Linked DNA regions of Homo sapiens. The protein of the gene in region 3 purifies or fractionates together with the protein of the main gene of each other region. This does not show direct contact. Each region holds a gene or a part of one and is shown on either strand. Other genes may lie near its edges.

Region 1 (3,655 bases), on a different chromosome or scaffold from region 3:
CCCCACAATTCTGCTAGGGAAGCATTACTTTCCCTTTCATACCAAGGAAGCTGAGCTAAGGGGATTCGGTCTTCCCAAAGTTACTCACTCAGCTTCTAGAACAAGCCCGTGAGTCACTACAGGTTTTCCCTCCTTTACCCAATAAATCACAACACAAACCAAAAGGCTTCTGGACACAGAGGCTTCCACTTTGGTCTTTGGGTTCTGGCTTCTGAGTGGACCCAGACACTAAAGCCGAGTTCTGGTTCCCTGGGGTAGTTCACTCCTAAGGGTGGAGGCCAGCTGGGGGGCAGGACCGACCTCAGGCCCACACCCCAATTCAGGGAGGACCCAGCACCGACAGTGTCTGGTAGACCAGAAGTACATCCTACAAGGACCACTGAAGTGGACGGAGCAGAGGAGGGAAGATGGGATTTCCACACACGCAGTAACTCCCCCAACAGGCGCTGAAGGTCATTGTGGAAAGAGCCTGAGCTCTGAGCCGGACAGCAAGGTTTAACTCCTGTTCCTGGAGGTCACCGGCTGTGTGAACCTGGCCAAGTCTCCTAACCTCTCTGAGCGTGGGGTGCTCTCACTGTTGATGAGTCCACTACCCACCTCACAGGCTGTTAAAGACCAACTAAGAGCCTACACATTAGGTAGCAAGTGATGGGCCTGGCACGCGGCAAGCACTCCAATGTTAGGTACTGTAATTACTCATTAAGCACTGGCTCCGGCAATCAGTGGGTGCTCAATACAAGCGAGCTGTGCCTGCCAAGCGATAGTAGCAGGAGCATAGCATGGCAGTCAAGACCACCAAGTATACTTGCTGTGCAACCTTGGGTACACTACTTGACCTCTCTGAGCCTCAGTTTCACCTAAAAAACAGAAATGACACACCTCACAGGATACCACGCAGACTGTATGTTAAGCTCAGACCCTGGCAGTTAGATGTTCTAGGATGGGAGACACCTGGGTGGAAAGGCGAACACGGACCCCCATACTGAACTCCCCACCCTAGTGACCAGGCCTCTGGTCTTTCACCTCCCAAAACCCGCTCTACACAGCAGGCCTGGCCGATGCAGCCAGGAGCCGGGGTGTCACACCAAGAAGCCCTCCTCAAAGGACACAACCACACAGCCAACACAGTAACCACAACACGGGCTCAATGGCTGCCCCACCCTGAGTAACCAGAACCCACTCACCACTCCAAGACCAGCACCAAGACTTGGCATTTCCTGGGCTCCTCTTCAGGGAGACCCAACCATGTGTGATGCCACAAATACCACGCTGTCCTGTGCTGTCACCTGCCAGTCAACCTTTAGGACTCAGTTCAGTGCCACCTCCTCTGGGCAGCCTTCCCACCCCGCCCTGTGCCATACATAGAGGTCAGATGCCACCACAAACTCCTGCTGCACACACCGGGAGCTCCCCAAGGATAGGGACTGCATGCTGACAACCCTGGTGTCCCCAGCCCTTGGGTCAGGGCTAGGCATTCAGCATCAAGTCAGTAACTGTTAGCAGGGCGATGGAATGAGCAAAAGGATGTGGGCCTGAGAGAGAAGCACTTCCTGCTGGGGGTGTTCTGTGCTCACTGTGAAGTGTTGTGACCAACATACCGACTCGATCAAGTCCAGGGCTTCAGAGAGGCTAGAACCCACAGCAGGGATGAGGAGGTTAGCTGCCTCCACCACCCACTTGTAAGGCAGGCTCGTTTCTGGTGGGGAGCCTTCCTGGTCCTCACGCTTCGGGAATTCCTCCAAGGGCTCTGGTGTTCGCACTGCGTCCAGATCTGTACCGATGGGCTCCTGTTCCTTCGATGTGGTGGCTGCTGCAAGTTCCTCCTCACTGTTTTCCTCCTCCTTTATGGTAGGAGGGACGGAGGGCCAGTTGGTCAGAAGACTTCCCTGTAAGACACAAGAATACACCATTTGCATTTCGCTGAGATATAGACTATATAGTAGTTTCCAGCTAAACCACACAACCTGAATCTAAGAAGGAAACTGTGATGAACCCAAATAGAGAAACATTCTACAGAATAATTAGCCATACCATATACTTCCAAAATGTCAACATCATGACACTAAGAAAGGCTGACTAAAGGGATAGGACAACTAAATGCAATGTCTGGTCTTAGACTGCATCATGGACAGGGAAAAATGGAATATAAACTGTAGATAAAGATCCTGAATTAGGCTTAAATTCCCTGGATTGAATATAACTTTATTGTGGTTATGTAAGCAAATGGCCTTATTCTTAGGAATCTATGCTACATAACTAACTCTCAAATGGCTCAGATGAAAGAAGTAATACACAGAGGTTGGGTGCAGAGGCTCACGCCTGTAATCCCAACACTTTGGGAGGTCGAGGCTGGTGGATCACCTGAGGTCAAGAGTTCGAGATCAGCCTGGCCAACATGGTGAAACCCTGTCTCTACTAAAAACAAAACAAAACAAAATTAGCCAGGTGTGGTGGCAGGCACCTGTAATCCTAGCTACTCGGGAGGCTGAGGCAGGAGAATTGCTTGAACCTGGGAGGCAGAGGTTGCAGTGAGCTGAGATCGCACCATTGCACTACAGCCTAGGTAACAAGAGCAAAACTCTGTCTCAAAAAAATTAAAAAATAAATTTTTAATGCTTAATAAACATTAAAAAATAAAAAGACCAGGTACAGTGGCTTATGCCTGTAACTCTAGCACTTTGGGAGGCTGAGGCAATTGGGTCCCTTGAGTTCCTGAATTCAAGGTTGCAATGGGCTATGATCACACCACTGCACTCCAGCCTGGGCAACACAACAAGACTCTAATAAAAAAAAAAGGGAGGGGGGAGGGGGCTGGGTGTGGCGGCTCACACCTGTAATCCCAGAACTCTGAAAAGCTCAGGCAAGAGGACCCCTTGAGTTCATGAGTTCAAGGTTGCAGTGAGCTATGATCACGCCACTGCACTACAGTCTGGGGTACAGAGCAAGACCCTGCTCATTTAAAAAAAAAAAAAAAAAAAAAATCACGCCTGTAATCCCAGCACATTGGGAGGCCGAGACGGGCGGATCACAAGGTCAGGAGGATCGAGACCATCCTGGCTAACACGGTGAAACCCCATCTCTACTAAAAATACAAAAAATTAGCCAGGTGTGGTGGCAGGCGCCTGTAGTTCCAGCTACTTGAGAGGCTGAGGCAGGAGAATGGTGTGAACCCGGAAGATGGAGCTTGCAGTGAGCCGAGACTGCGCCACTGCACTCCAGCCTGGGCTACAGAACGAGACTCTGTCTCAAAAAAAAAAAAAAAAAAAAAAAAAAAAAAAAAAAAAAAAAAAATATGCGGGGCGTGGTGGCTCACACCTGTAATCCCAACACTTTGGGAGGCCAAGGCAGACAGATCCCTTGAGCCCAGGAGTTCGAGACCAGCCTGGGCAAACCCCATCTCTATAAAACAAACGAACAAACAAAAAGTGAATTTTATTGTATGTAAATTATACCTTTATAAAATAAAGAAAAAAAGCTACCAAACTGGGAAAAAATAGTTACTACATGATAAAGGAGTAGCATCCTTAATATACAAATAAAATGTACAAACCAGTAACAAGATAAAAAAAAAAAAAAAAAAAGACAACCAAGCCAAATAACAAATTAACAAATTAAGGGGTAATTTGTTACTCACCCTCATTAATAGTAAAAGAAA
Region 2 (3,729 bases), on a different chromosome or scaffold from region 3:
CATCAGACACTGAGCTAGGTGCTAGGTACTAGGTAAACAAAATTCCCTGCCTTCATGGAGCTTAGCTTGTGGTGGTGGAAAGAAGCCCTCAGCCTGAATACTCAACTTATGTCTGCCGTTTATTCCTTAACACATTAAACTATAGGTAATAGCATATGTTAGTCTAATCTTTGTTTAGCAAAGCTATTTCTTGTTCTGGAATATAAGTACAGTTACAGCAGAATAAGTACCAAGGCAAGATTGGAGAATGACCGGTTGTGAACAGGGACTTAGGAATATGTGTAGCATAGGATTTTATTTTAGAGTTGTTAAAATCAGATCAACAGAGCATGTTTTTATGGGCCATCTGACAAGACTAGAGGTAGCTTTGGAACCTCTTATTCCCTGGAATGCAAACATGTATTTGCATTTCATCCACTGTCAGTATGAGGAGACAAAAACGAAGTCAGGATTTTGGAGCTGGAATGGATCTTAAATACTATGTAGTCCAAACGTTTGGTTTTACAGATGCACTTTTTCCAGAGTGCTGTCATCTCATATACTTTTTTCTTCATACAGGTTTTTAATGTAACTCACTCAGATCGTTGGTGATAGACTCTCTCTTAAAACTTATTTATCCTAATCTTTTTTTTTTTTTTTTTTTTAAGAGACAGGGTTTTGCTCTGCTGTCCAGGCACACAATAGCTCACTGTAACCTCCAACTCCTGGAGTCAAGTGATCCTCCTGCCTCAGCCTCTCAGGTAGCTGGGACTGCACTACTAGTGCACTAAGCTAATTTTTAAATTTTTTTTGTAGAGACAGGGTCTTGCTGTGTTGCCCGGGCTGCTCTCTTAACTCCTGGCCTCAAGTAATCCTCTTGCCTTGGCTTCCCAAAGTGCTGGGATTACAGGCGTGAGCCACCATGCTTAGCTGATTTGCCCTAATCCTCTGCTGACATTCTGATATCGGACAACTAAAATTATAACATTGGGCAGCTATTTTGTATGATATATAGGGTAGTGGTTCTTAAGCTTATTGGTGAGTAACCTTCACTTGGGAAGCTTATTTTTAAAAATGTAGACCTTCATTACTTTCCTCCTGAGATTTTGAATCAGTACCTTTGAGAGAGGGTCCAGTAAATCTTTGTTTTGAATGAACTGATGGTTTTGAAGCAGGTGACCTGGAGGACTGCATGTAGAACACAGTGATGTCAAGGAGTAAAGGAGAGAACAGAAGTGAGATTAGCACTAATCACCTCTAATGCCTTATTTCCAGTAAAGTTTAGAGAAGAGGAAAAGCTACTTGGCTTGCTCCTTTGAAGGTTTTGTTTCCCTCTTAACACAGAAATTAAAAGGTAGAGGAGAGATGCTGAATGATGCTTTTTTTCTTCTTAATCTTGGGGGGTCATTATGATTAAGTTATTGAATCCATATCACCGTATGACAGCACATGATGAAAGAAAATCAAATGTTTGTTTCAATCAAAGTGAAACAAAATGAGAATAACTATTTGGGCAAAACACTTTTATCACTGCTAAGATATTACTAGAACTGAGCAGAGAAATACTCAGAGAGAGCCATGGCATAGTACTAATTAATAATGGGGTACCATTTAGCAACTGGAATATTCTCCGATGATGCCTGTTTAATTACCCATAGGTGCTAAGTGAATGTTAAAAATTACGGTGCTGGTTGAGTAGGCCGAGTAGAATTTGTGTTAGGGCACATCCCATGGAGATCTTTTTTACTGCTTAATTTTTTGGAGTTACCTCAGTAACTTAACAGGCAGGAATATGGTTTTAATGGAAAGGAAACCATTTGCCTTTAACAGCATTAGTCCCGCTAAGAGAAAGTTTTTGCTTGTCTAGTTTATTACAGGTCTTTGACTTTGTCAGTATATGGCAAATTTAGTATAAAAGATGATTAATTATCAAGGCTGATGAAATATAGGCAGCTGAAAAGAAAATTCTTAGCAATTCATACCTTAGAAGGAACCCTGAAGGACAGGACGCCATAGAAATCCTGTTTTTTTAAAAAAGTAATTTCAAGTAAGTTTGCAAATGCAATGCTAGTAAAAAGTATATAGAGGTATGTCTTTCACACTATCTTGTTACTATTAGAATTTTTGTAGCCATGTGCAGAGGAGAGAAAAGGTGTTGGATTTTCTGCAGTTCTGATTCAGTTCTAAGAATTTGGTGTGAAAAGAATGTTTGCAAAGGAGCAGGCACAAAGGTGAGAACAGGAATACGAAACACAACATCTGTAAATGACTAAATTCAGAGGGAATTTAGTGGGGCATATCTCTTAAATGGTTTTGAATAATTTGGTGTTTTAACCAATGACTTAATTTAACTTAGTGGGTATACTGTTCCCAGTCCCATTACTGATTTTTATTCCTCTGTGATAACATACACCCAAATAAAGACTGCTATGTATTTGACTTTAAAACTATAAAGATGTAAAAAAGGTTCACTAAGCCAAACACCTTAGAAAATAGCCTCAGCTATTTGCTATGTTTATATTATACCTGCATAAAAGTATTTATGTATAGATGTACTTACCTTACACAGTAAGTACCTAAAATTTGTAAATTGAATACTTTTGAATGTAAGCAGTTGAAGTAAAACCTGTAGTGAGTTCTTCAGTCAGTCAACACTAAACCTGTTTTGTAAATTTGATGCTAGTATTATACTGGACTTTCTCAAAATGAAGTACACCTATATATGCATATAGTATATGAGCATGTGTATTTGTACAAAAGCCCTTCAAAAGGAGTTCAGCTTTTATAAACACCAAAACACTCTCTGCCTGTAAAATGTTTTTGCTGAAATTTGTATCATTAACTCTCAAATTTACATCTTCATGTTTGAGATACGCTTTTAGGACTGTCTATGCATGTAGACTTTGGTCAACTCTCTCCTCCTCCCTCAATAAATCAGTTAACTTAAAAAATATATTGTGACCATTTTTATAAAATACATGTTCATAAAACAGATCAACATATTTAGCTTATACAGAAATAAAATTAAGTCAATCCACTCACAAAGAATTTCTATTTTGTAAAAATGTAGCTTGTATTTCAGTATAATAAAATCTGATGTAAGAAACTGTTGAGTGGGTTAAGTGGTTATTCTTAGTATTATATCTACTTTTTTAGTGTCACAGTTATTTGAGGTGCTGGTGGAAGGGGAGGTGTAAAAACACACAAGTTTTTGCAGCCAGAAAATGAAAACATTTTCCATGTGCTGACTAAATGGCAGCTGTCACATATTTCCTTCCATTCCGAGTCAAACTAGGACCTTGAAATCTAACTTGAGATGTTCCATCAGGATTGGTTTGTACCACTACTGAGAATTAAATGAGTATCTAATGAAGTACCAATAATACACATAAGTCTATACACACATACTAACATTTCAGTCAAGATTCAGCACAGCAAACTGGGCTGTATTTGCAACTTTTAGACTGGCCTGGTTAAAAGTAATTTGAGAAATTAGTAGTACCAAGTTGTGAAGAAATTTGTAATTCTTCCCTGTTGCCCTCTCTTCCTTTATTGAATGCTCATCTGTCCACTTCTCTTTCAAAGTAGACCCTTATTTTCATCCTTGAATACAATTTAAGTCTCCTTTGTCATTCCTATCCTTAATCCAACCTTGAATTTTTCCTCTGTTATTAAATCATCCTGATTTTTTCTGTTAAATTGATGTCCTTGGGTATTTAGTGACGTTTCATAACACAACATAATCCCTTG
Region 3 (3,655 bases):
ATAGACGCAGCAGTCTATACAGAATGATCCCATAACTGTGTGCATCTTTAGACACTTTTCCCTGATTGCTTTTCAATAAATTCTTACATAATTGCTCCAAATTACTTTTTTCAATACTTTCATAATATTGCATCAAATATATGTTTTAAAAAGTCCACAAAATGAATTGCCTTTTTGTTTCAAAACTTAAAACACCATTTATCTGCCTCGAGACTATCCTAGGCAGACACTGTCTCTTCTTATAGATCCAAGAATTCTGCAAAAATACTTTTTTCCATAAGGGGTGAACATCCCAGTTTACTGCCTGTGTACTGCATTTAACTTGCTTATCCTGTCAAAACTGTGGGCATAAAAGTATGGGGCAAATAAGAAGTGTGTCAATTTACTGACTGAAATTCAGAAGCCATGTGCTGACCTAATGTTTCTAGTGGCACAGTTGTATCCAGCAGTAAAACCTGACCTAGTATGCATTATTTATTACCACATCATAGTATGTATACTAAGTCAAGCGTATAACTAATGTTGGGTTTTACCCCTGAGAAGGAGTATCTGCTTTATCATAAGCTACTGAATTATTTGGAAAGGTAAAATAATAATTATTTTGTCCAAATGATAAATCCAAGGTCAGAGTAACCATTTTGATACAAATGCTTTATGCCAACTGCCAGGTTTAATAAGAGCCAGAAAGAGCCATAGGTTCTGTAGGTTATACTTAGAAAATTCTAAGAAAATTCTCTACGACCAACCTGAAAGCAAAACATTTGGCAAAATCAGCACTTTTTACATAACTCATGAAATGTGTTTATTTTGTATTTTTAGATAAAATGTAATATATTTTATTTTCTTAAAGTAGTATACATACTACTGTACAAAGTACTATGTAGTTCCAAAATTGCACAACCTCCCCTATTACGTCAATCAGTAATCAAGTTATAAGGGCAGAACGATTGAGTTATTATGGAAACACGCACCAGGAGAGTGGACTTCCTGGGCCTTCTCCAGTAATTTTTCTGATGTTAACTCCAATAGAAAGAGTGTGACAACCTCAAAGAATACACATTAAAACTAAAAATATAAACCAATATATTTAAACATTTAAATACATCAAAATGGAATCATAAGGCAGACATTAAAAAAAAGAAAAAAACGTTTGACTTTTCAATAGCTCTTTTTCACATCTGTAAAATGTGGATAGTCATACCTGTACTGCTAACTTACACAGTTTTGTGGAAATAAACAAAGTTCATAACCAATCCCTTTATCAACCACAAAGCCTGTGAAAATAAAAAAATACTGGGCCTCTGATTTTTTTTTCAAACTAGATAGTGAGAAAACAGCTTGTAAATTAAATAACAAAACAAAAACCTAAGCAAGTATAAGCTGAGTATCATAAATACATGAGTTTTCTGTACTGTAGAAGAATACATATTAATGACATTTGTTTACTAATTCAAAGCACACTGTTACCTAAAATACCGATTTTTTTCCTGAAGACTCCAGAAGTCAAGCAAATGAAGAGGAAGATTGGGGAAAAGGAAGCAGTTGATTCACAACTGCATGTGCCAAAAAAGGAGTGGGAAGAAAAATGAGAGCCAATTTGGTCTATTATCTTTAATGGAGAGTGATGGCTAAACTCTGACACTGATAACTTTCAGCGTCAGGTGTCTGCTGAGTTTCTCTAAGCTCATTTGAATTCATTTAATAAGTGATTAGACTGGTAGGGTAGCTTTACAAATCTGCTTATGGTGAGCATTGAGTTGTTTATGCTTATTTCATTTTTTGTATAAGGAAAGGTAAACTGTATTTTCAAGGTGTGTTGTAAGATTTGCACTAAGAATCACAAAAAGAATCAAAAAACTTAGAATCACATAGCAAAAGTAGCAAATACATGTAATGCATCCTTTATTAACAGGCAGGTAATGGTATCAGAGGACCAGAATAACCTCTGCTCTATTTACTGTCTTCTTTGGAAAGAACTCCAGAACCAACCTTTTGGTTCCCCCAACTATTTATTGCCCTAATAGTCAAGGGGTAGAAGACAAAGAGTTGGCCAGAACTGAAATTCATTTTCTCTAAATTGGTTGTTCACAACCAATAATATTATTTTCCTCACAAAACTTTTCTTTTTAATAAGAAACAAAATCTTGCTCTATCACCCAGGCATGAGTGCGGTGTGTGGTCAAAGCTCACTGCAGCCTCAAACTCCTGTGTTCAAATGATCCCCCTGCCTCAGCCTCCCAAATTGCTGGATTACAGGTGCATGCCACCATATCCAGCTGATTTTTTCAAAATTTTTAATAAGATTTTAATTAATCTCACTATGTTGACCAGGCTGGTCTCAAACTCTTGGGCTCAAGCCTGCCAAAGTGTTGGGATTACAGGTGTAAGCCACTGCACCCAGCCTTACAAAACTTGAACAGTCATCACGCCACCCTTAGTCCTAACAATATCTTCTTTACATGATTCAGGCCAGGATGTCTCTGGTGCTGGGTTTTGGCCATCATCTCTGAACCCTCCAGGTTTCCCATCATTTGTAAACTATTAGTCTATGAGAATAAAAAATAATTTGCTCTCATTTTTCTATGTATTCTCACCCATTTTTAAGGGAAAGGTTTCAGGAAACACTAAAAATAACCCTCCAAAAATGAGAAAAACATTGTTTATAGAATTTCTACTTCCAGTTCAAAATTTCATCTATATTGTTAAGACTCTTAATATTCTTCAAAATTACTGAGGACCCCAAAAGTGCTATGATTATGTAAGTTATATCCGTTAATATCTATCATATTTGAAATTGAAAGAGAAAAATTTTTTAAATCACATTGAAAGAGACAATTCACAAACATAGACATATAAGTGGCCACTATGAAAATTGCTCAACTTTGTTCAACAAAGAAATGTAAATTTAAACAAGATACTATTTTCGTATATCAATTATCCAAGTTGTTGGATTTGTTGTCATTTGCTCTGTTTGATGATGGCACCCAGTATTGACATAGAAAACTCTACTCTTTTATATTGCTCATAAATGAATACCATATTCCTCAAGAGCAAAATGTCAAAAATAATCACTAGCATTCCATGAGATTTCGCTAAATATTTTAAAGAATCCTCAAAATACCCAACTATTATTATTTCTATTTTACAATTGAGAAGACAACATTTTAAGGAGATAAAGTAATTGGATTATCATCTCACAACTTGTAAGTAATAAAATTTTTTTTAGAACCTAGAAAATAAACTTTAAGAATCTACCATAAGGAAATAAACAAAAATGTATACTAACATATATAAAAAAGGTCCTAGATGAAATATTATTTATAATAGTGGAAAACTATTATAAATCTAAATATCCAACAATTATTTATAATAGTGGAAAACTAATCTATCTAAATATCCAACAAGATATAATTGGCCAGTACAGCCTATATACAGATGAAAAATTTCATATAGTAAGAACCATACTCTTTTGCTCATGGATAGATTGCCATTACTTGCATTACACACAGTAGGGACTTAATAATATTTGTTAAATATGTGAATACAAAGTAATGCATGATTATTAAAAAAAACATGTTTTAACAATGCATCTCATGAATGAGGGAGAAGCATGTTACAAAACAGCATGAACAGTGTGATCACAATTTTGTAAAAC

What was found.
Region 1: the proteins of PLA2G4A (region 3) and MYBL2 purify together in Homo sapiens (affinity purification with western blotting; one study listed by BioGRID). This does not show direct contact.
Region 2: the proteins of PLA2G4A (region 3) and SUGT1 purify together in Homo sapiens (affinity purification with mass spectrometry; one large-scale study listed by BioGRID and IntAct). This does not show direct contact.

The regions. Positions count from the first base shown.
Region 1 is NC_000020.11:43,697,988-43,701,642, reverse strand, and holds part of MYBL2 (myb-related protein B), read right to left. Parts: intron 1,887-3,655; coding exon 1,599-1,886; intron 1-1,598. UniProt on the Homo sapiens protein: Transcription factor involved in the regulation of cell survival, proliferation, and differentiation. Transactivates the expression of the CLU gene.
Region 2 is NC_000013.11:52,697,825-52,701,553, forward strand, and holds the end of SUGT1 (protein SGT1 homolog), read left to right. Parts: 3' UTR 1-3,085; downstream 3,086-3,729. UniProt on the Homo sapiens protein: May play a role in ubiquitination and subsequent proteasomal degradation of target proteins.
Region 3 is NC_000001.11:186,831,872-186,835,526, reverse strand, and holds part of PLA2G4A (cytosolic phospholipase A2), read right to left. Parts: intron 1-3,655. UniProt on the Homo sapiens protein: Has primarily calcium-dependent phospholipase and lysophospholipase activities, with a major role in membrane lipid remodeling and biosynthesis of lipid mediators of the inflammatory response.